2 separate regions of the Homo sapiens genome follow, and region 2 is linked to region 1. Evidence: fine-mapped expression QTL. A gene starts in region 1. The other region holds a variant in brackets. All regions are shown on one strand. Distances are from middle to middle.

Evidence for each region. PIP is the estimated chance that this variant, and not a neighbour inherited with it, causes the effect.
Region 2: its variant is fine-mapped to the expression of TMEM229B in whole blood (INTERVAL, PIP above 0.99).

What each region holds. Positions count from the first base shown.
Region 1 is chr14:67,482,609-67,494,719 of GRCh38, forward strand. TMEM229B (transmembrane protein 229B) reads right to left here and starts at 6,113. Exons shown (of 3, transcript NM_001348543.2): 1 at 5,900-6,113; 2 at 4,392-4,564. It also overlaps a transcript of GPHN not described here. RefSeq lists enhancers at 5,455-5,524, 5,688-6,187, 5,825-6,244, 8,794-9,334, 9,335-9,874.
Region 2 is chr14:67,502,575-67,514,685 of GRCh38, forward strand. It overlaps a transcript of GPHN not described here and a transcript of TMEM229B not described here. Among named protein-coding and RNA genes, the nearest start is that of TMEM229B, 20 kb to the left of the region's middle. The variant C/T (reference allele first, on the strand shown) is at 7,034.

The DNA.
Region 1 (12,111 bases):
AGCTTCAGGAGCCCTTGGGCGGCTCTGTGCTGAAGATAAGTGGCTTCAATGAGGAAAGGGCAGAAACCTCCCTGAACTTCCCCTGTTGTCATCAAGTTAGCAGGGAGGAAAATAGGGCTTGCCCAGGGCCAGAAGGGAAGCAAGTGGAGGGAAACTCCTGTAGCCACTGGCTGGTGCACATGCTGCAGACTTCCACCCTCTTGCTGTGGGTGCCCCCCAAGGAAAGCCCCTGGGATTAGTGATACTGCAGGCCTTGATGAAGTCCTCCCTCCACCTCCCAAGTCACAGTAATAATAATAACCAGGTGCTCTTCTCAGTATTTCCATGTATTAACTCAAAAAATTCTCAAGCCCATTTTACAGATGGGGAAAGTGAGGCAGAAAGAGGCTACGTTCTTTTTTTGTTTGTTTTTTGTTTTTTTAGATGGAGTCTCACTTTGTCACCCAGGCTGTAGTGCAGTGGTGTGAACTTGGCTCACTGCAACCTCTGTCGCCCGGGTTCAAGCAATTCTCATGCCTCAGCCTCCCAAGAGGCTGGGATTATAGGTTCCTGCCACCACACCCAGCTAATTTTTGTATTTTTAGTAAAGACGAGGTTTCACCATGTTGGCCAGGCTGGTCTTGAACTCCTGACCTCAAGTGATCTGCCTGCCTCGGCCTCCCAAAGTGCTGGGATTATAGGCACGAGTCACCACACCTGGCCGAGCCTACATTCTAATAACTATAAAAGGCAAGGCTGGGATTCAAACCCCACAAATCTGGTTCCAGAGTCTTTGCTCCTAATCAGCACACTGCACTGCCCCCGAGGCTGACTGCAGGCTCCTCTGAGGGCACTACCATTTTCTGAGTTCCTGCTTCTGGAAGGCTGGGATGGTATGTGGAGAGACAACAGGAAGCAAGGAGAAGGTTGTGAACTTCTAGGTGGTTCATTAACAAACTTCCCAACTGGGTGTCAGAGTTCCTAAAGGCTCCCAGCCTGTTCCTCGGGATCCACACAGAGGCCCTCCAGGGTCAAAGCTGACAGTCACAGGACCATGACAGCAACCAACCCTCAGGCCCCAAGGCATGCGCCATTCAAAGGCCCCTCACCAGGACACACACAACCCAGAGGCCCCCTGACTGCCAGCCCACACCAGTGCTCCTGGGAGTCTCAGATGGCCCGGCCCAGCCCTGCCATGGAGACACCAGCCAAGAGCAGGGGCCAGCTGCCCAGAGGAGCAACAGCCAGCATGTCAGGAGGAGCGGTCCGAACACAGAGGATTTCAGGGGGCCTCAGATCCCAAGCAAACCGCAGCAGGAGGCAGGGCAGGGTGAGTGGGCTTGGGGGATGGAGTCAGTTCTGGCACAGAGGTCCCTGGGGCTCAGAAAGCGAAGGATGCCCTGCACGGGGGACTGGCAGGCTGGCATCCCAGACCTGTATGTGGCTGCCTTGCTGTTACCATTCAGATCTCAGCTGAGCTGTCATATCTCAGGGACTTTTGATCCCCAGTCCAAAATAGCCTCTCTGTCACTCACATCATTCCATTTTATTTTCTACATAGCACTTTCACTTTCTGATATGTTGCTACTTATTTATGGTCTGTCTCTCCTCAACTAGAATGAAAACTTCATGAGAGCAGGGGCACTGTCTTGTTCACTGCTGTTTAGTCAGTGCCTAGAGTGGTGCCTGGCAATAATACCTAGTAATACTTGTGGAATGAATGGATGGATGAGTGGGCCCAAACAGGCCCAGGCCCTTAAACACTGATGAGGGCAGGTATAAACAGCTAGCTGCCTCGGTCTCTCTTCCCTCCTTTCTTGAGAAATATAGCCTTCTAAAACATTTAATTCTAGCATTTAATTTTTTTTCTAATTATAAAAGCAACATGTGCTCACAGCTGAAATTTAAACATTACAGAATGACATAGAAAGCAAAAGTTCCCTGTAATCACACATCTTAGAGAAAGTCACTATTAATGGTATGTTGTGTAGTCATCCGGATTCAATTTTATTTTTTAAAAAGCCAATCCATGCATCATAGAAGAAGCATTCATAGGCCGGGCATGGGGGCTCACACCTGTAATCCCAGCATTTTGGGAGGCTGAGGCGGGAGGACTGCTTGAGCCCAGGAGTTTGAGACCAGCCTGGGCAACATAGTGAGACCTCATTTCTAATAAAGAAAAAAAAAGAAAAAGCACTCATAATTCTGAACTAACAGCGATTACCATTTCTCCTTTGCAATATTTTCCTATGTGTGTATTTTACAAGTCACCATAATATACTTATTCTGCAACCTGCCATTTTTACTTGTCATAACTGTTTTTCCAAGTTGTTATATAGCCTCTGTGCTCATTATTATAATGGCTGTGTAATATTCCAGCAAGCGGAAAACTGTAATTTACTTAACCTAGATGTCCAAAGGGAACAGTTGTTTCCCATTTCTACTACTACAGATGATATAACGAGAATTACCTTTAATGCCTGTAATGGAAGAATTCAGCCCTTTTCTTCTCTGGTACTATTTCCTAATAATATATCTTAATGGATAATTCCAGAAGGAGAATCACTGAACCAAACGGTACAACAGCCTTAAGGCTGATGGCATAAATTGCTCTGGGGAGATGTGCCTCCCATCTGAGGAACGACGTTCCCACAGAGGCACCCATGGCCATCTCTTTACCCCCAACTCCCCTCCTACAGTCTAGGCTTGCTCACACCACCCTGGCTACAAATCAACTCAAGAACACACTTCCTGAGAAACTCTCCAGTCAAACTGACTTTGTAAGCCCAGGCTGAGTGGAAAACAGATTCTGGCCCTGAATTATAAACTGTCAACTAGGAGAGTCAAGATCTACCTAAAGTGGAAAAAGACCTGATTACCCCTTTTCTACTCCCTGCAAATTCCTGCATGGAATCTGAAGCTCTGGGTTCCCATGGACCAGCCTAGGAACTCCAAAAAAAGCTTGTCTGTTCAAGATTGCAAAAGCCCAGCTCTGCCTGCCATGCCTTCTGGGGAGCTTCCTTCCTGCAGGCCTCTGATCCCACCAGGCTACGGGCCCTGCACAGACATAACAGCCTTCAGGCCAGACAGGCCTCTGGGGGTTGGGAAAGCAGCCAATTGTCATTTTTTAAGGCATCATCAAGGAAAAGCCAGGGGCTGAGGCTGGAAAGAAAGGCCTGTGAGGACAGGCAGGGCTGTGCAGTTAGGAGCCTCTCACCCTACCTCGAGCTTGTCTCGCTGAGGAGGAGATGCTGCTGCTGATATGTGACAAAAGCAAGAGGACATGCTCCTCCAGATCCCCTGGTGGTCACTCTTATGGCAGCTAAGGCTCACAAATCCCCCCACCTCCCAGGGCCCTGGATGCCCTACTCCAGGCCTCCTAGACCAGCAGCACATGCATTGCTCATGGCTTCTGGGCAGAGTCCAGTCCCAGGTGATGCATGGTCCTCACTGCACAGATCTGAAGCCTGACGGCCAAAGTAGATGCTGTTTCCCAGGTGTGAGTGCTCGCTTCACTCACGCCAGACAATCTGAATGATATGGTTTGGCTGTGTCCTCACCCAAATCTCATCTTGAATTTCCACCATGTTGTGGGAGGAACTGGGTGGGAGGTAATTGAATCATGGGGCCAGGTCTTTCTCATGCTGTTCTTGTGATAGTGAATAAATCTCATGAGATCTGATGGGTTTTTGTTTTGTTTTGTTTTGAGACAGAGTCTTGCTCTGTTGCCAGGCTGGGGTGCAATGGCACGATCTTGGCTCACTGCAACCTCTGCCTCCCAGGTTCAAGCGATTCTCCTGCCTCAGCCTCCTGAATAGCTGGGACCACAGGTGCATGCCACAATGCCCAGCTAATTTTTGTATTTTTAGTACAGATGGGGTTTCACCATGTTGGCCAGGATGGTCTCAATCTGTTGACCTTGCGATCCACCCACCTCGGCCTCCCAAAGTGCTGGGATTACAGGCGTGAGCCACAGTGCCCGGCTGATCTGATGGTTTTATAAGGGAGAGTTTCCCTGCACAAGCTCTCTTTCTGCTTGCTACCAACCTTGTAATATGTGACTTGCTTCCCCTTGCCTTCCACCATGATTGTGAGGCTTCCCCAGACACGTGGAATTAACCCTCTTTTTCTGTATACATTTTCCACTCTTACGTATGTCTTTATCAGCAGCACGAAAACAAACTAATACACTGGGTCTGGCCTGGATTTTAGAGGCCATGTGGCCATAAGACGGCTCCCGCATGTGATGGCCCAATATTGCTTGACATTCCCCTCCCATTGCCCTGTGACAGGACCTTGGATGGGGAACAGACTCAGAACTAGAACCTCCAGACTCGTGCCCATGCTGATGAGGTGCCGAGCAGGCAGGATCGCTGGGCTGGTGATCCCCTGGGTGCTTGTAACATACTCACTTATCACACCCTTGAGTGTGCAGCTCACAACAGACATCAGGATCACTGTCCAGGAGTGTCCTGGGTTAACCTTTGTTGGCTGGGCCTCAGTGCCATTCTCAGCAACGTAGGCAAGCATCAGCCCTAGGGCTCAGCTGATCCTTGGCTGGGGGGCTGGCAGCTTCCATGTGTCCCTGGGAATAAAAGAGGAGGCTTTTATTAGCTTAAACTGCCCCCAGCAGATCCAAGAAAAACATTGCAAGGGCCTGGGCTCTGGGCTCAGCACCAGACACTCATCCCACCCTGGCCACCAGGGCCCCTTCCCGGAACCTACCCCCTCCTCTTTGCATCCAGTTTGCTCAGGTCTGATTAATCCAGCCACAAAAGTCTGGGATGGTCCTGGACAATCCACATGTCCAGGGTTAGGACTTAGGGCTTCTTGCCTAAATGTGTGAACACTTGTGAATCTGAGAGGGGATATAATTTTAGAATCCAGCTCCATTCTCATTCAGCTTCAAATTACATTCTCACCTTCACCCTGTAGTGGGTACATCTGTTCTCAAGGGCGGTCAGAACCTCATGGAAGGCAGACAATGTAGGACATTCGTTTCAGCACTTTGAAAGCAGAGAACAACCACTCGTGCAGAAAAACAAAATGTGTGCTAAACCTTTCTACGTACTATTCTACCTCTCTAATATTTATTCATCTCATTTTATTATTTCACCATTATTATGGTTGAGGCCCTTCCTATGAACATCAGTAACCAGCTACAAGCTAATACAAATCTTACTTTATAATGCCCTTTGCCATGTACTTTAAAAAAAAAAATCAAGTAGAGACGGGTCTTGCTATGTTGACCAGGCTGGTCTCAAGCTCTTGGCCAACCCTCCCACCTCAGCCTCCCAAAGTGCTAGGATTATAGGCGTGAGCCACTGTGCCTGGCCAGCCATGTACAGCCATGTTTTTACTACTATCCCTAAGACTTGACTATTTAATGGAGATTCCAACATTTTTTGTTTTAATATGAAAGTGCTAAAGCTTCCCTGAAAACCCCCTGGATACAACACCATCTGCATATGCCCAAGGACAGCACTCAGGCCCAGCATGGCCCTCTGGGACAGCCCAGCCACTCAGAAGCTGAGAACAGTATGTGGCTGGGGGTGGGAGCTGGCACTCCCCTGTGGATGACCAGGCAGGATGGACCAGAGGTGCTGGTCTGTGCTGATGCCCATGTCCACCTTCCCCACTCCCCTCTGACCACCAGGGTCTCTGAGTAGAGGCCGCTTGGGCCCTTGCTCAAGCTGACAACCTGTGAGGCAGCCAGGCAGCCGAGGAGAAGTGAAAGGGCAGGAGTGGGGGAACTGAAACTCACTGTATGGTGTGGTTTTGGGGGGTGCCCCCCTGGGTCTCCCCCCGGGGCCTCTGCACTGAGAGCATCACAGTGGGCTGCTGTGCTCAGCCTTGCCTCCCCCTCCCCAGCTCCTTCACAAACGGGACCCTCCAACCCTCCCTGATCTGTCCATCTTACCGGCTTCTTCCAGCCTGCCGGATGGCGGACAGGGGTCACCTTGACACGTACCTATCACCTTGAGGAAAAGGTTTTAACGGAGCATGTCCGAACCCTCTGGGACTCTCTCTCCACCAGCACCACAAGGACCATGTGCCTGGGGAGTTCAATCCCACCTGTGGAGACTTCTCCCCACCCTAGGCCCTCAGCCACATCCACGGCACAAGTCAGAACTAAAACAGAAACAGAAACCAAAGACCACATCCTGCCGGCACAGCCTGCGGGTTACTGCAGCCAGCTCTGGGAGCCCACTGCCTGCTGAGGTGCAGCCCTGGCAGATGAAGCCCCAGCACTCAGAAAGGCTCCTTTTGAGGGCAGTGTCCCACCAGACACCTCCCACTTCCTGGTCTGCAGGCTTTTTCCCCAGGAAAAACTTAGTTGCAGGGAGGATGAGATGATGGTGCACCTCTCCCTCCAAGTGCATAAGCTGTCCCTAGGCCTCACTGACACTCCCTATCCCCCAAGAGTAGATCCCAGGGGACAGGGGACATGAGGCTCCTTTGAGGACTGCAGGACCTGAACCAGAGTTTCTTGGAACATATGAATGAATGATGAGCCCTTATAGCAACTAACATATGGATGGAACTTAGATCATCTCTCATGATTTTCTCAGGCTCCTGAGGGGCAGGAAGGGCAGAAATGGTCACCTCTATTTTAGAAATGAAAACACAGAGGGTTCAGGACATTAAGAGATTTGGCCAAATCCAAACATTTGATTCAAATCCCAGTCCTCAGCCTCCAGAATCACCCTGTCCCCATACAATGTGCCTTCGAACTGCTTCCCACCCAAATCTCATCCTTAAGGCACATGTCTGCATGCAAGGGTCTTCAAGTCAGTGTAAACTACTTAGTCCATTCCAAGTAAGCTGCTTATTTTGCAAACTTATAGCTGAGTTTGTCCATGCAGCTTCTGGTCAATATGCCTGAGACGCTGCTGGGAGCGTGAAGAAGCAGAGACCACCGGCCTGTTTCAAGCACTGTCATCTCTCCTGCCCTCCTCTGCAGCCACCATTCTGACTCCTTCTTCCAGACCCTGCTCCCTCCTCACTCCTTTGCGATGCCGTCCCACAACCTCCAGGTCATTCCATCACTGATGTTCCCAGGGGGATCTGACCATCCTTCAACTGAAACATGTCATCCCATCTTAAAATTCTTTCTATGTAGCCGGGCGCGGTGGCTCACGCCTGTAATCCCAGCACATTGGGAGGCCGAGGCGGGCGGATCACGAGGTCAGGAGATCGAGACCATCCTGGCTAACATGGTGAAACCCCATCTCTACTAAAAGCACAAAAAATTAGCCAGGTGTGATGGTGGGCACCTGTAGTCCCAGCTACTTGGGAGGCTGAGGCAGGAGAATGGCGTGAACCTGGGAGGCAGAGCTTGCAGTGATCTGAGACCACGCCACTGCACTCCAGCCTGGGCGACAGAGCGAGACTCCGTCTCAAAAAAAAAAAAAAAATTCTGTCTATGTGTCTGTTTCCCCCACCACGCTATGAATTTCTTGAGATCATAAAATTTCTGCTGGATGGATGGACAGGCAAGGTGGAGAAGGGCCCAGCTGCATTTAAATTCTTGGGCGACTGAAACATCCAATGTTACTAATCAAACATAGCAATGTCTTGTGTTTTTCTCTAATTTATAGGCCACCATCACAGATGAGCCATACATGTTGGTTTACTAAAGGCAAGGCTGTCTCTGCAGGTGAAGGAAGCAAGGAGTGTGCTCACTCTCCTTTCTCCCATCTCCAGGAGCCATTGCACCACCAGAGAATGAAGAGAGGCAGAGTGGGCGGCCTGGGTTTGCACAATACAGAAGGCATGTCCAACATCACGCAAGGAAGACTGGGGCAGGAACAGACTGTTCCAGGCATCAGGGGAGATACTGCAGCCTCCTATGTGGGCAAGGGGCCAAGCGCAGGTTCAGGTCAGAGAATAACAACTCCTGTTCTGTTATTTCTACAATGTGCTGGCACTCTCAAAAGCCACATCAGTTTTCATGCACATAGGATTCACTTCCCAAAGAGGCTACTGGCAGGAAATTCCCTTCGCACCATTTTCTCTCCTTTCCTATAACTATTTAAGGTAAGCTGGGCTTGCAGGATTGAGTCTCTGCTTCTCTGACCAGAACCTAAAAATCAGATCTCTCTCCCCGGCCCCTCATCATCTCCTTGGCCTGGAACCTAACACTGGAGCCAGAAAGCATGCAGGCAAATACTACCTCTGTTTTTTTACCCCCACTCTCCTTTTCCTTAACACTCCCCAAATCTCCCTGTAAAGGAAAAAAAGTTTTTTCCTTCTGCTCTCACACTCAAAGCAGAACACTTCTGTGACCAGATATGGGGTGGGCGTGGAGGGGGGCAGATATGCCCCCCATATCTGGTCACATTTCTCCAGCAGACACCAACTGGGTCTCCTACAGTTCATTTAAACTCTGATGCTATCTATCCTGAGATAGCAGCAGATCCCACATTCTGAGGGCTCAGTCCCACAAGACTGCCCCCACTTCAGATGCCAGTCACAAGTAGATCGTCACCTATACTTCTGAACAATTGGTTACAAACCAGGGTTCCCATGACCGCCTCCTTGGGTTCTATTAATTTGCTAGGATGGCTCACAGAACCCGGGGAAACACTTACCTTTACTGATTTATCACAAAGGGTGCAGATGAGCAACCAGATGCAGAGATGGATAGGGTGACGTATTGGGGGGTCACCCACCAGCACCGCCACATGTTCAGCCACCCAGAAACCTATCAAATCTTATTCAAGAGTTTTTATGTAGCTTGATCTCCACCCTCCCACACCTTTCTTGGAGGTTGGAGGGTGAGGCCAAATGTTCTAATCCTCTAAGCATTTGGTCTTTCTGGAGACTGGCTCCATCCTGAGGCTGTCTAGCCCCTCCACCACCCCACCACTTCCCCAGTAACTTCATTAGCATAAACTCAGGTGTTATCAAAGGTGCTTATTATGAATAACAAAAGACATTCCTTTCACTCAGGAAATTTCAAGGGTTTTAGGAGCTCTATGACAGGGACCCGGGACAAAGACCGAATACATTTCTTATTACACCGCACCCTGACCCAGGTGCCCACAAAGTAGAGAAGATGCCTAAAGGCCCACTGGGGAGCCCTCTGGTTACTCAAAGCCCCCAGTTCTTCTCACGTGACTCAGAACAACCACTTTTACTTATCCTAGAGTAAGAAAAGCCCTGAGCACAAATGGATCTGGTAACTTCCTACACCAAGGAGGGGCCAAGCTCAACTACAAAAGCAATCAGTATTCCAGATTCCCTGAGGGGAAAGCCTGTGTCTGTCCAGCTCCCCCAGGAAGCAAGGAGAGGCCCAGGCCGCGGGGGCCTGCCTGGCATGGGGAAGGTGCATGGAGATGGGAGCCAGGCCCCAACCCCACGGGGCCCTGTCCTTCCCCTCTGTGCCCCTTGCTCTGAGCTTGGAAGCTGCATTGCCCCACCTGCCTGACATCTCACCCCACTGTCTTCTGTCTCACTTGGAGGCCACCTGTCCTTTCCCTCTCCTCTCCCCCTTCCTCCTCCCCATCTAGCCCACTCTATCTCACATGCCCCTCTCAAAGTCCCCCACTGAGCAAACCCTGACCACCCAACTCCATCGCCTTGGAGGGTGGTCTCTGGTCCCACGTCTATTTCCTCCCATTCCCACCCCCGGCAATCAGTAGCTGCTGCTTGCTGCCTGAAAGGCTGGACAGCTGCTGGGCTCTCTAATTAGCTGCCTGGCCGCCGTCCCAGAGTGAGGCATGTGTTACTGTAAAGAGCTGCCTCACCTTGCCTTCATCAATAATCCCCTATGCAGATCCCATCAGGCAGCGGCTGAGAGGCCCTAGAATACTCTGCACATGAGACCAGCAAGCCTTCTCCTGTCAGTCAGAAAAAAGAGGCAGTGGCCTCACAGCCTCACTGGCAAAGTGACCAGGATTTTATCTGGGTTCTTCCCACTACTGCCCATGTCCTTAGGGTGTCCTGGAGGTTACCCTGCCACGCTGCACCTTCAGAAGTGATGGGGACCCTGCCCCTTTGTTGCCTCACCAGGGAGGCAGAAAGAAGCCCAGCAGGGCTTTCAGAAGACAAGCCTGGACCGCTCTTATGGTGTGACAACAGGACTCCGCTTTTCACAGCCTGTACAGCCAAGCCACCTAGAGATTTCTAAACAACAAGGGAACTTAGTCCAAGAAGTCCTGTGGTAGCTGGTTTATTTATTCAAGGTGTTATATTCCAGCAGTCAACAAATATTTACTGAGACCCAGTGAAGGCCAGGTACTGTACCATGTGTGAACAAGACAATGTTCCTGCCCCCTTGGAGCTCACAGGCAGGTGGGAGATCAGCAATAACTAAGCAGCTCTAAACATACTATAAGTTTTAATATTATGCCATGAAGATGGGGAAGGCCAGGTGGGGGAAATAAAGAAACCCGATGCTGGAAGGTGAGTCTTAAATGTTAAGGAGGTAGCATTTGGGCATAGGTTAGAAAGATGAGAAGAAGCCGTGCAAAGAACTTTGGGAAAAGCATTCCAGGCAGAGAGGACAGTTAGTGAAGAGACCCTGAAGTAGGAGAAAGTTAGACAAGTTTGAGAAACAGCAAGGCCAGAGTAGCTGGTGTTAGGCACAGTTTATCTTCAAAGGTTTCAGTTCCTTGTTCTTTGTTCTATTCTGAAAGTAATCTTACCCATCCATCTATCAGCCCTCCCTATCTCTGTTGCACCCAAACACGCCCAAGCATATGCCATCACCTGTGTACTTGTCTTTCCCGCCAAGTGCCCACCCTTGCCTCCTTTGATGATGTCAACAGTAGCCAATCGGAATTAGTTTAGATTGTGCGGTCCAACCCCAGCCAACACAGGGAGGACACAGGAACAGGGTCTGTGTTAGGGATAAAAACCCCTGCTCTCCTTTGTTCAGTGTGCTCTCGTGATCGTAACTGACACAGGCCGCACCCTTCTGCAGGAGTAAATTGCCTTGCTGAGAAAACTTTTTCTGCCTGAGTGCTGGTTTCACTTTGCGACACCAAGCTTTATTTCCAACACTGAGGGTCAGTGTGCTTTGGATGCTGTCAATACCCTGCCTGTTGGGGTGAGCATCAGGCCCCAGCCTGGCCAATCACAGCACCACATTCCCCTGGTTCTGTGATTGGTTCAGGGATGGATACATGCTCCAATCAGAGCCAATCCTGAGATTCTTGTTGGAATGGCCACAGAGACCACAAAAGAGGCATCCTTTTCTTTTTTGTTTTGGACTTGGAGCTATAAGGATGTCAGTCTGAAATTGACAGGGTAAGGCCAGGGGCAGTGGCTCACACATGTAATAAACTTATTTATTTATTTAAAAATAATTTTTTTTTAATTGAAGGATGAGAGTTGTTCTGGGGAATCTGTGACAGTTGCTGTCTGCTCTCCATCTGAACCAATCGGTACTGTTCCTTTCCTTAAGTAACAGTCCACAGGAAAGACCACCATGCACTCAGCTGGACACTGACCCCAGCCACACCAGGCACCTCCACCATAAGCCTTAAGCCCAACAACCCCTGCCCTTCACTCAGCCCCTTACTGGACAGCTCCATCTACTGAGAAAGCACCCAGTCTTGCTAATGCTTAAAATATGGCGCCAAACAGCACTTAGGCAAGAGTAATTAAAGGGAATGTTATCTCAGTCAGTCTCTCATTAACCATGTAATTAGACTGCTGAAAATAATTAACATTCCTTTTGACAAAGGATAAGAGGACCCATTACATTCATTAGGACAGCCTCAAACCAGCCTGAGAAAGGCCGAGAAGAGAATTTAGAAATGAGACCCAAAGAGGTTATGCAGCTTTCTCAAGGTCACAGTGCTAGTAAGGGCAGGGCTAGGATTTGAAGCCAGGCAGTGTGCCTGTGGGTTCTGTGCTCTATCAGAGAAGCAGCTGTGGGGGCTACAAGGTTTCAGCCAGCAAATCCAGGCACAGGAAGGGCCCTGAATTGGTGGTTATTGAATCTGGAGCAGCCAGGCCAATCGGCCCCGCCCCCACACACCATGCTTATACTCTGGACACGGGTTGAGAGGTAGGGGATGCCTAGACCAGCTCTTGTCAGTGCTCAGCAGGTACATCCCACCCTCCTGTCCACAGCCGGTGATGGCTGGCTGTGGTGCACAGAATCAGCATTCACAGAGA
Region 2 (12,111 bases), 20 kb after region 1:
CCTGAGTAGCTGGGATTACAGCCATGTGCCACCACGCCTGGCTAATTTTGTACTTTTAGTAGAGACGGCATTCCTCCATGTTGGTCAGGCTGGTCTCAAACTCCCGACCTCAGGTGATCCACCCACCATGGCCTCCCAAAGTGCTGGGATTATAGGCGTGAGCCACCGCGCCGGGCCCCAGAAGGTGATTTCTAAAGGTCAGTCAAGGCCAAAGCAGAGTGACCACAGGGCTTATTTCCCAGCAGCCAACCAACCAACTTTATTAAATACTTTCTGTGTGTAAAACCTTGTACAGGGTCCTGAAATGTATTAAGATTTACAAAACAAAGTTCCAGCCTTTGGGAGCTTAAAAATTAGTGGAGACAATATGGTAAGCAAAACAACCATGGAATATTAAAAACTGAAGGGATATCATCCGGACACACACTTTAAAGATGAAACCAATGTTCAGGGAAGTTGAGAGCCTTGCGTAAGTTAGCAGACAAGCAGATAACCGCACGCTAACAAGCAGATAGTGGCGCTGCACGGAGAGATCAGGATCTGTGTTTGCCAACTGTTGTTCACTGTCCTTTGCATAAAAGCACATAATAATTGTGACCTGGTGACAAAATGACAAGAGGAGTTAAAAGATCCTAACAGAAGTGGTTTTGGTTAAACAAACTTGCAGCAGAGATGGTCTCTGGCTTCTAAAAGGACTACAGTTTGGGTAGGCAGCAAGGCAGGTGAGTGCCCTTCAGGCAGTGGAACAACTGAAGCAGGGGTGGGCGTGTGTATGCCAGATTAGTTGTGCAAGTGGATTAGGCTCTAGGAAAGGGCATAGAAGGATTTCCTGGGGGCGCTGGGGAGATACGTTTGGAAAAGCGTGTAAAGGCTATGGAGAGCTTGAATGACAGGGCAAAGGACGTCAATTACCTCCTAAGGCAGCATTTCCCATCCCTGCATGCCACCTTCATGACTCGGCATGGCTGCCCACTGCCCTGCGGGAAATGACAGAGGGTAGCAGTTTAAAAGTCCACACTCTGGAGTCAGATTCTTTCCATTCAAATCCCAGCTTTGACACCAATTATGTGACTTGGACATGCTGCTTCACCTCTCTGCCTCAGCTTACTTTTTTTAAATTATTTTTATTTTTTATTTATTTATTTTTGAGACAGAGTCTAGCTCTGTCACCCAGGCTGGAGTACAGTCGTGCGATCTCAGCTCACTGCAACCTCCACCTCCTGGGTTCAAGCAATTCTCCTGCCTCAGCCTCCCGAGTAGCTGGGATTACAGGTGCTCACCACCATGCCTGGTTAATTTTTGTATTTTTAGTAGAGACAGGGTTTCACCATGTTGGCCAGGCTGGTCTTGAACTCCTGACCTCGTGATCTGCCTGCCTCAGCTTCCCAAAGTGCTGGGATTACAGGCGTGAGCCACTGTGCCCAGCCTATTTTTTAATTTTTATTTTTATTATTTTTGAGACAGGATCTCGCTCTGTCACCCAGGCTGGAGTGCAGTCGTGCGATCTCGGCTCACTGCAGCCTCTGCCTCCTGGGTTCAAGCGATTCTCCTGCCTCAACCTCCTGAGTAGCTGGGATTACAGGCGCCCACCACCATGCCCAGATAATTTTTGTATTTTTAGTAGAGATGAGGTTTCACTGTGTTGGCCAGGTTGGTCTCGGACTTCTGACCTCAAGTGATGCGCTTACCTCAGCCTCCCAAAGTGCTGGGGTTGCAGGCGTGAGCCACCGTGCCCAGGCTCAGTTTGTTTGTAAAATAGAGAAAATATAAGTACGTTCCTCATGAGGATTAAGTGAGAAAGCATGTTTACTGTACTACAAACAGCAACCTGGCATTATAAGCTACCAATAAATGTCAGTTGTTGTCACTAACCTTTTCATTTAAGTCAGTTTTTTTTTCAGTTATATATGTACTGTAGCCTTGTTCTAAGCAATAATATCCACAAAATCATGGGCTTATTGTGACAATGATGGTTTTGATGATACACATATAACAAGATGTTAAATCAAAAAAATAAATAAAAAACAATAGGCCATGTGCGGTGGCTCACACCTGTAATCCCAGCACTTTGGGAGGCCGAGGTGGGTGGATCACGAGGTCAGGAGTTCAAGACCAGCCTGGCCAACTTGGTGAAACCCTGTCTCTACTAAAAATACAAAAATTATCTGGGCGTGGTGGCGGGTGCCCATAATCCCAGCTACTCGGGAGTCTGAGGCAGGAGAATCTCTTGAACTTGAGAGGCAGAGGTTGCAGGTGAGCTGAGATCTCACCATTGCACTCCAATCAGGGCAACAAGAGCGACACTCCGTCTCAAACAAAACAAAACAAAAACAAAAACAAAAACACAATAGAACACTTTAGATTCCTTTATTGTGCATTGCTGTGTTGCTTTTATGATTTCCCAAGTGCGTTTGGATATTTTTTAAAGTTTTAAAACATCCAGTCAAAGCAGCTATAGGAATTAATCAGCAAATTGACTCAAATGAGTAGCTGCATCACTTTCCAGATGAACACCAAGGTGCACCAAGATGCAACAGGTATAATGCTCGTAAGTGTGACACCAAAGAAGGATGCGCATTTTCAAAAGAGGTGCGCAAGGGCCCCTCTCTCAAGCTGAGGGTATAGAGGGTCAGAATGGGCAGAGACTGGGGAAAAATCTTTGTGGAGGAATTTTGGGGTTGCTGTTAGTGTGCTGTGATATCTCACCCTGTCCCCATAGAAAACTGGCCCTCCTGTCAAGCTGGTGAGAGGGGAATTCACCAGGACCACTCAGGAAACTTGATGTCTGTCCCCTGCAACTGGGAGGACATGGTGGACTGGCATCTGATCACCTCTTGAGACATCCAAAGGGTGGGACACACGTTGGCCATCTGCTGTTGGAGGAGCCAAGGGAGACTGCTGAGCTGGGGTCAGCCTGCCTTCCCAGGTTCACTGTGCCCAGGGATGTGTGATTGTTTCCTTGAACTAATGTGGGCCACATGCACTAATGTGGGCTGGCATGAGGTCAGAGCAGGTCTTCTCTGAGATGGTCTCTTGGGCAGACTGAAGGACCTTAGCTGAAAGAGGCTAGAGGTGAACCACTGGATTTCAGGGGCTGAGGAAGGAGCAATGATCTAGAATAGAGGATAATTTGCTCTTTTTTTTTTTTTTTAAACAGATTCTTGCTCTGTTGCCCAGGCTGGTATGCAGTGGTGCGATCTCAGCTCACTGCAACCTCTGCCTCCAGGGTTCAAGCAATTCTCCTGCATCAGCCTCCCTGGGATTACAGGCGCCCGCCACCATGCCTATCTAATTTTTGTATTTTTAGTAGCGACAGGGTTTCCACCATGTTGGCCAGGCTGGTCTCGAACTCCTGACCTTGGGTATCCGTCCATCTCAGCCTCCCAAAGTGTTGGGATTACAGGTGTGAGCCACCTCACCTGGCTGATAATTTGTTCTTTTCAAGACAATAGAAGTGAGACATCCCAGCAATTGGGAGGGTAAGGAGAGTTCTCTGAGAATCCGATAAAAATATGGACCAGGAAGCTGGAAGCCAGCAGAGTGTACCCAGTGAGCACTTTCCTGCCCCTCCCAGTCCAGTGACAAAGGAGTGGATGTATTTTTATTTTATTTTATTTTTTAGTTTTTTCCATGGGACTCTGCTTCATAAAGCGGGTGTATTTTGTACCTAGTTGAGACTATGCTTGTAAGACTTAAAGTGATCACAGAACCGTCTCCTATGAATAACCAGAAAAGTTACAGGGCCTAAGTTTTCACCCTAGACCAGGGAAAGAACTAATCCCACTGGATAAACATAAAGAGACAGTGGGAGGCAAAATTAAGTTGCTTGATGAGTACATTCCAATGAGTCATGTTTCTTTACACTCATTAGAAACATAGCTATTAAAATGAAATGTTTGTCCTTGTACCAAATGAAATCATCTCTCATCCCCCCAGTAGCATGGTACCCCCCATAAAAATAATGGGGATAGGGGAATAAGAGGTGAGGAAAATGTAAGACAGGTAGGGATGGAAAATATTGGTTTGGTGGGTTCAGTGGGAACTCATTTGCTCCTCAACCTTGAATATGATGAAATGAAAATAGAAGGAATGAAAGAATCCAAGGGTCCTTAGAAAATGGCTTTGTTTGGGCCAGGAGTGGTGGCTCATGCCTGTAATCCCAACACTTTGGGAGGCCAAGGCAGGCAGATCATGAAGTAAAGAGATCGAGACCATCCTGGCCAACGTGGTGAAACTCCATCTCTACTAAAAATACAAAACTTAGCTGGGGGTGGTGGCATGCACCTGTAGTCCCAGCTACTCAGGAGGCTGAGGCAGGAGAATGGCTTGAACACAGGAGGCAAAGGTTGCAGTGAGCTGAGATCGTGCCACTGCATTCCAGCCTGGCGACAGGGCCAGATTCCATCTAAAAACAAAAAAGGAAAGAAAGAAAAAGAAAAAGCCTTGTTCAAAGGGAACTGAAGATAGCCTAGCCATAGCCCAATTCCATGAACAAAGAAGACGTGGTCCCTGAGTTCCTGGGCTGAGTATATGGTTTAGCCTTGCCCTTTCAGGTAGTTAGGGCAACAGAGGGGGTTATACTCTCGCTAACACTGAGTTGCCCAGAAAGCACCAGCTAAATTAGCCAGGTGCTAATATAGGTGGTGCAACTACAGTCCTAGCTACTTGGGAGGCTGAAGTGGGAGGATTGCTTGAACCCAGGAGTTCAAGGCTACAGTGAGCTATGATTATGCCACTGCACTCCAGCCTGGGTGACAGAACAACATCCTGTCTCTAAAATAAACAAAAACAAAAACAAAAAAACATCAACCAGAGACCTCAAGTTCTGGAGACCCAAGTGGCAGAGGAGCAGGGATAGGGGGAAGAATCCTGGACTGAAGCAGACCCTGGAGTCCCCAGGGTCTCGGTCTTTTGTCCAAGCTGGAGTGCAGTGGTGTGGTCACAGCTCATTGCAGCCTCGACCTCCCAGGCTTAAGTGATCCTCCCACCTCAGCCTCCCAAGGAACTGGGAGTACAGACATGCGCCACCATGTCCAACTAATTTTGTGTAAAGACAAGGTCTCACTGTGTTGCCTAGGCTAGTCTTGAACTGGCAAGTGATTCTCCTGTTTCCATCTCCCAAAGTGCTAGGATTACAGGTGTGAGCCACCCTGCCTGGCTCAGTTTAAGTTTTAAGACAAGACATAAAGGTTGCTCCCCATGACATAGGAATGGTGAGTATAAGGGTGTACAGACACCACCTCTCAGCTGCCCCACTGAAGCGGTTAAAAGAGCAATGACTGGGCTGGGCATGTTGGCTCACGCCTGTAGTCCCAGCACTTTGGGAGGCTGAGGCCGGCAGTTCACCTGAGGTTGGGAGTTCCAGACCAGCCTGACCAACATGGAGAAACCCTGTCTCTACTAAAAATACAAAATTAGCCGGACGTGGGGGCGCATGCCTCTAATCCCAGCTACTCGGGAGGCTGAGGCAGGAGAATTGCTTGAACCCGGGAGGTGGAGTTTGCTGTGAGCCGAAGTCACATTGCACTCCAGCCTGGGCAGCAAGAGCTAAACTCCATCTCAAAAAAAAAAAAAAGAGCAATGACTGGTCCTAGTCCCCCTTCTTGAGAAGGGACTTCCTCCAGCTCTGACTTTGTTCCTTAGCTTCCAGTTTGACTTCTTTCTCCTTCAACACCATCTCTTCCCTCCCAACTCTGACTTCTGACAGTTCCAGACCAGCTGAGTTATTTCCTGAAAAAGGCTGGAACCTCAGCCTTTCTCAGGAAAGGCTGGATCATCTAGCATTATTACCTGAAGAGAGGTTAGAGAATATCTTGTCCAAATGATAAGAAAACTAAAAGCCAAAAAACTTGCATCACACGCCCAGAGTCACTGAGCTGTGAGGAGAACCCAAGTCTCCTGACCCCTTGCACACTGTTCCATCATACAGCCTCACGCTAGCTCTCCAAGAGGGGTCAGCTCACCTTCCTTGGACCACCACCTTAACCCTCATTCCTCTTCCATGAATACTTCAAAATGGTGGAAGAGGCCAGGTGTAGTTCTGCACCTGTAGTCCCAGCTACTTGGAAGGCTGAGGCTAGAGGATCCCTTGAGCCCAGGAGATAGAGGGATAGAGGCTTCATTGAGCTGGGATTGTGCCACTGCACTCCAGCCTGGGTGACAGAGCAAAACCTTGTCTCAAAAAAAAAAAAAAAAAACAGAAGACAATTAACTTGCTTGGAACAAACAAGAATGGATCCCAATCTACTAGCTGGTCACCTTTGAATGGAGAAATCAGTGGCTATAAATATTTTCTCAGAAGAACAGAATAATCTCATGTTTGCTGTACTTTGCTCAGTGTAGCTGGGACCCCAGAGTCATAATCAGGTCTCCACAGCTGAATTATAATGATGGGCAGGGAAAGGCCCAGAAACTAGGTTGGAGGATGAGGATTGGGGTCAAGAATCTGCAAAGATAAGCTTCTATGACTAGTGGCAGTAGGACAACAGAAATAAAAATGTTGCCCAAACAGACCGTTAAGCAAGAGGAAAATTTTGGTTTCAAAATGAAATGGGGTTTATGAGATGTATTCCTATGCCAAGCAGAAAGCGTGTTCCCTTTACAGTAACTCCCAGGCCATCTGGTCTACTTCCCTACTGCAGGGTACAGACCTCTCCTTACTGAACATTCATTGAGATGATGTTTTTCAAACAAGAATCTGTACTTCTGTCTCCTTTTAACTAGTTGTGTTTAATCCACATCAACTCTCTCTTTTTTTTTTTGAGACGGAGTTTCACTCTTGTTGTCCAAGCTGGAGTGCAATGGCATGATCTCTGCTCACTGCAACCTCCACCTCCCAGGTTCAAGCGATTCTCCTGCCTCAGCCTCCCAAGTAGCTGGGACTACAGGCACGAGCCGCCATGCACAGCTAATTTTTGTGTTTTTAGTAGAGATGGGGTTTCACCATGTTGCTCAGGCTGGTCTTGAACTCCTGACCTCAGGTGATCCACCCACCTCGGCCTCCTAAAGTGCTGGGATTACAGGCATGAGCCAC[C/T]GCACCTGGTCAATTCTCCTTTTTATGTGTTAACCTATACTGCCTCCACTTTTACCCTCTCCCCAACATTTGGTCTATTATCTGATCCAAGCTTATAAAACACAATAGATTCAGACTGGCTGGGAGATGTGGCTTATCCCTGTAATCCCAGCACTTTGGGAGGCTGAGGCAGGAGGATTGCTTGAGGCCAGGAGTTTGAGACCAGCCTGTGCAACATAGCGAGTTATAAAGACTCTGTCTCCATATAAACAATTTTAAAAGTAGCTAGGTATGGTGGCACATGCCTGTAGTCCTAGGGAGGCTGAGGCAGGAGGATCACTTGAACCCAGGAGTTCAAGGCTGCAGTGAGCTATGATTGTGCCACTGCACTAAAGCCTGAGCAACAGAGAGAGAACCCGTCTCTAAAAAAATTTTTTTATTAAAAAAAAAAAGAATCAGATAGATCTCAATTCAAATCCCAGTTTAGACACTTACTAGCTGTATGATATGGGTGATCACTTTATCTTGCAGAGCCTCAGTGTTTCCAGCTGTGAGATGGGGATAATTAATAGTAGCTATCTCATTGATATGAGAAAAGAACATATGTAAATGCTTAGCCTAATAAATGGTGATTGTCATTATTATTGCCATGATCACTGAAGCCAGCTGAAGCTCTATTTGTGGAATTAAGTCTCAGAGGGCTGAAATGGGCTGTCCAAGGTCACACAAGTGAGTGAGTCAGGGAGGGATCCCAGATTTCCTGATTCCTGAAGCCTTTGCCAACCATCAGCTCACACACAGACGAATCATTGCCCAATGACCTAGAAATCGGGGTATCTGATCACATCCAAGTACCACAGCTGGTGATTTAATAAGCACTCACCATGTGTTAGAAACTGTGCAGGCTATATGAAAGCTTTATAGCATCTATAGGTCAGTATAAGAAGGTCATCTCATTGCTTATGCCAAACTAAAAGAAAAAGAAAAAGAAAACAAGACAAAAATCTGGAACCGCTGCTTGTGTTGCCCAGTGGTAATGATATTTCTTGTCCATGTGTGTTTTAAGAAAGTAGATGAAAGTAAGACCAATGCTCTGGCTGCCTTATTCCTGGCTTTGAACAGGCCTTTTTGATTGGGAACAAGGGGAAGAGAGATACTAAGGACTTAGGGACTAAAATGGGGTTTGGCCAAGGACAGCAATGAAAAAGGAGATGGGGGTTGTCAGTGGGCTAAAAACAAGTCCCTGTCGGTGCTCTGAAGAATGGCAGTTATTGTCAGCAAGGTGGGCTTCTCGCTGCACCAGGGCCTGTCCCTCCACTGACTGTGCAAGCAATGAAACCATGGAGCCCCAGGAAGCACATTTTATCTTGAAGCATGAATCACCCCTCAGAAGTCTAGAAAAGAATCCTCTCTTTGTGGCCCTTCAATCTCCTTGGCTGGCATCCCTAGCTCCTCAGGGCTGATGTCAAGGCCTTACTAAAACTCAGGGTGAGTGACCTTTCCAATGGAAACGGATCATTCCAGAAGCTCATGTGACAGGGGTGCCTCTTAATAACTGAAAGGAAACAATGAATGAATGGGCCAGCTAGATGGCATTCGTCATTCAAGTCTAACTGCAAAAGCAGTCAGAAGTGGATAATCCAGTATGTTCTGAATGAGGGGCTTTTGGAAAGCAAAGGAATGGCAGAAAGTGATCTCTCCCCTCATCTTTTCATATTTATTAGCTCTCCCTACATTAATTGACAGCTGAAGTCTTATTTAAAAAAACAAAAAAACAAAAAAAACTGTCATGCTTCTAGAAGATGGAGCAGCCGGAAGGAGCAATCTGAGGACCCGAGACCTGTCCGTGTAGATGGTTTGCCCTCATTTCAAAGATGCTGTCTCTTCTATAATACCAGCCACACTGGGAGCCGAGAATCCCGAAAAAAATATTAAACTCCCTACTGGGAAGCCAGCAGAGTAAAGGATGGTGAAAAGCTGGATGTTCAAAAACATGAATTGTCAATGACTTTGGTTGTTCCTCAAATTGCCAGACTGGATTGTGATCCAAAGGTAAGTGGAAGCACCAAAATCAGAGGAGGGTGGAAAGTCGCCTTTCAGAACCATCCTTTGAAGGAGCAGGGGGCCAGCATCACTCTGTGACCTCCGCTCCACTACATTTATACATAGGGGAACTGATGTTAAAATGAGCATGAAGTATAGCCTCACAGGGGAGGAGAGCCGAAGGCCACACTGGGTATAAATGCAGCCTGATGAATGGGAAAACAGGGAAAGGAGCAAACCCTCTTTTCCATCTTGGAAATGTGATGGTTGACTTAGCCTCAGTTCTATCTGTGGATGTGTGTGTCGGGGTGAAAACCACTGCCTTTTCCTTGAATCACAGCAGCATGGGGCATCCCACAGCTCAAAGTCTGAGGCAAATATACGTCTTGAACCAAACACCCTGGTACTGATGTAAATTCTGGTACGTAAATTCTGAGTGCATCTTTATCTTATAGCAGAAAAGTATAACCTATGGATCTACTCGGGTACTTGATTTTAAATGCTCTTAAATCCCAGGAAAGGAAAATTTCCCCAACACATGCATTCTCACACACCACAGCCAGTGTGACAACTCTCAGTGGGACTCAGTTTCCCTAAGGGGAACCAAACCAAAAGTGCCCCCCTCCTACCCCTTCCCTAGAAATCAGCTTACACTTTACTTTTCAAATACAAAGCCTGATTTCTGAGAAGTGATGTAGAGTAAGAAGAAGATCTGGCCAATAGAGGCTGAAATTCCTCAGCTCAGAACATGAGAATCCTGTCTGATATTCCCTCCTTAGCCAGGTGTTGCCACAAAGGGAGCTAAGGCTTTGCCAGGTCAGAAATTATCCTTGCCTTAAAAGGAATGTTCCTGCAATTCAAAAATACACCCAGACCACCTTGTCTGTATATGGGAGGTAGGGAGATGGGGGAGGAGAAAAGTAAAAGCATACAAACTTGAAAACAGCCAGGCTCTGGGAGGGTTAGCTATCCCTTCCCTCCCCTCAAGGACAGCCAGATCTGATACAGTTGCCGATAAGACCAAGCTGCCTCACTCTACTGCCCTTACCCAGGTCTTTCCTTATGACATCAGAGTCCCCAACATCATCGGAGACCCTCCTCAGAAACTGGAAGGTGACAGTCACTAACATTCTAGCTGGAAACTGTACACCAGGAAAAAGCCCACCAGGAAGGAGCTCCAAGCCATCCTGGGAGGTAAGCAGAAAAAAAAGCTTGCTGCCTAAGTGCTGCAGCGAGAGCTTTTCTGATAAAAACTACACTTTTAAAACCAACACTGAGCTTTGCCTATCACAAAAGCTGTAATTTGGTCCCTTCCTGTAAAATGACACCTTTCCCTTTAGAAACAATATGTAAATCTGATACAACCGAAATAAACACAGTATAAGGCTCACTAACTCATTTAATATCTTTCATTCAAGGACTTGAGGGTCTTAAATCACTTTATAAATGTAAAAATTCATGCCTCATCACTTCAAAACAGGAAGTTAGGAGAGTATCAATTTCCCATCTTAAGGTCAGTACATTTGAGGAACATGCCACGGAAAAGCCCATCCTCTAACCACTGGAGGCTCGGAGGTCAGGCCTCCATATCATTATCCTCAGCTCCGAATAAATAGCTTGGGACAAACCAATAAAGCCGCTCCAGTGGGGAATTGAGTGAAATCAATCCTGCCTGCCTGTTAGAATGGGAAGGTCCATAGAAGTGGGCCTAGCTGTGCTTCTCTGGTGCAGTACCTGCATCTGACTTTAGCCACAAATTGCAGGGCCACAAATCTATAGCTCAGGGGACTCAGTTTTCTCCTGCTACTCCTTATTGGTCCTGGAACCTCCGTTGCTCCTGTACCTATAAGTGGCCAAAATCAACACTAAAAAAGCCTGTTGTCCCCACCCAACGCCTGCCATGCTGTGTCCCCAGTTGCCTGTATCTGTCTCCAAACACAAAGCCCCTGATGGGGGCTAAGTGTCATCTCAGCACACCCCTGAGCAAAGTGTCTCTAGAGCAAAGTGTCCTGACAGGCCCACCCTGGCCCAACCTACTTGTATCCTTGTATCATTAGGTCATTCACACAGGCAGGCGGGAGAGTCCTCCACCAGTCTAGGGCCCTCCAGTGCCTTCTGTCTCACAGGGAAGCAGATGTATCTGTCTTCCAAACAGGGAAAAAAATCTGAGCTCCCAAAGGGCTATCCTGCCACAGGATAGGAGCTGGTGGTCACATGTAAGCCAGCTCAGAACTGAAGGCACCTTGTTCCTGGAGACATAAGGCCAAGCACTGGGGACCTGGAACCTGGCCCATTTGTTTTCTAGAGAGAAAGACACTGTACCACCCCCAAGGCAGGTTGCTTGGCCCTCCCTTGATCCCTCTTCCTGGTACAGCAGAGAGAAACCCAGGCCTCTCAATTACCCAAGGCTGATAGCCACAGCAATAGCTCACTTATTACTAGGGTGCTGAGAACACATGAGAATTGGTGAGCAGAGCCCCCAAGGTTACACCAGCAGAAAGCTGCCTGGGGTCCTGCTCTTTCCCTCCAGGGAGAGCCTTGAGCAGTGCCCGAACACTCTGCCCTCCTATCTCCAAGCTCTGTACCTAAGGCAGCCAAACACCCCCAGGGAAACCCTGGGGAAAGAAAAGAGACAGTCCCCGGGAAGGAAGGGAAAGGGGTCCGTTTCTGACTGAGCATAGAAAGAGGGAAAGGAAGATACCTGGGAAAGAGGCCAATGTCTCCCTGCCCTTGCCAGGAACCGGGCTGTAACACTCCCCATCCCAGCCAGGCATCTCTCACGGAGGACCAGAGATCAGGGAGGGCAGGTGAAGAGCTGGCAGCCAGGGGGCTGGGCTGGGCCCCAGGACACGGACCTGGGGAGTGGAGGGCGCCTAGGTGTGGGGTCCATCACCCAGTTTTTCCATGCACCCTGGGGAGAAGGCGGCGGGGTCATTTTGGCAGCGTTCCCTTCCCTTCTGGAAAGTCCTCAGCCTCTAATTCAGGAGGGTCCTTGGTTTCCACTCCCAAGCCCTGGCTCCCCAGCTTCCACCCAGACTGTCACCCCCCTCCACCCT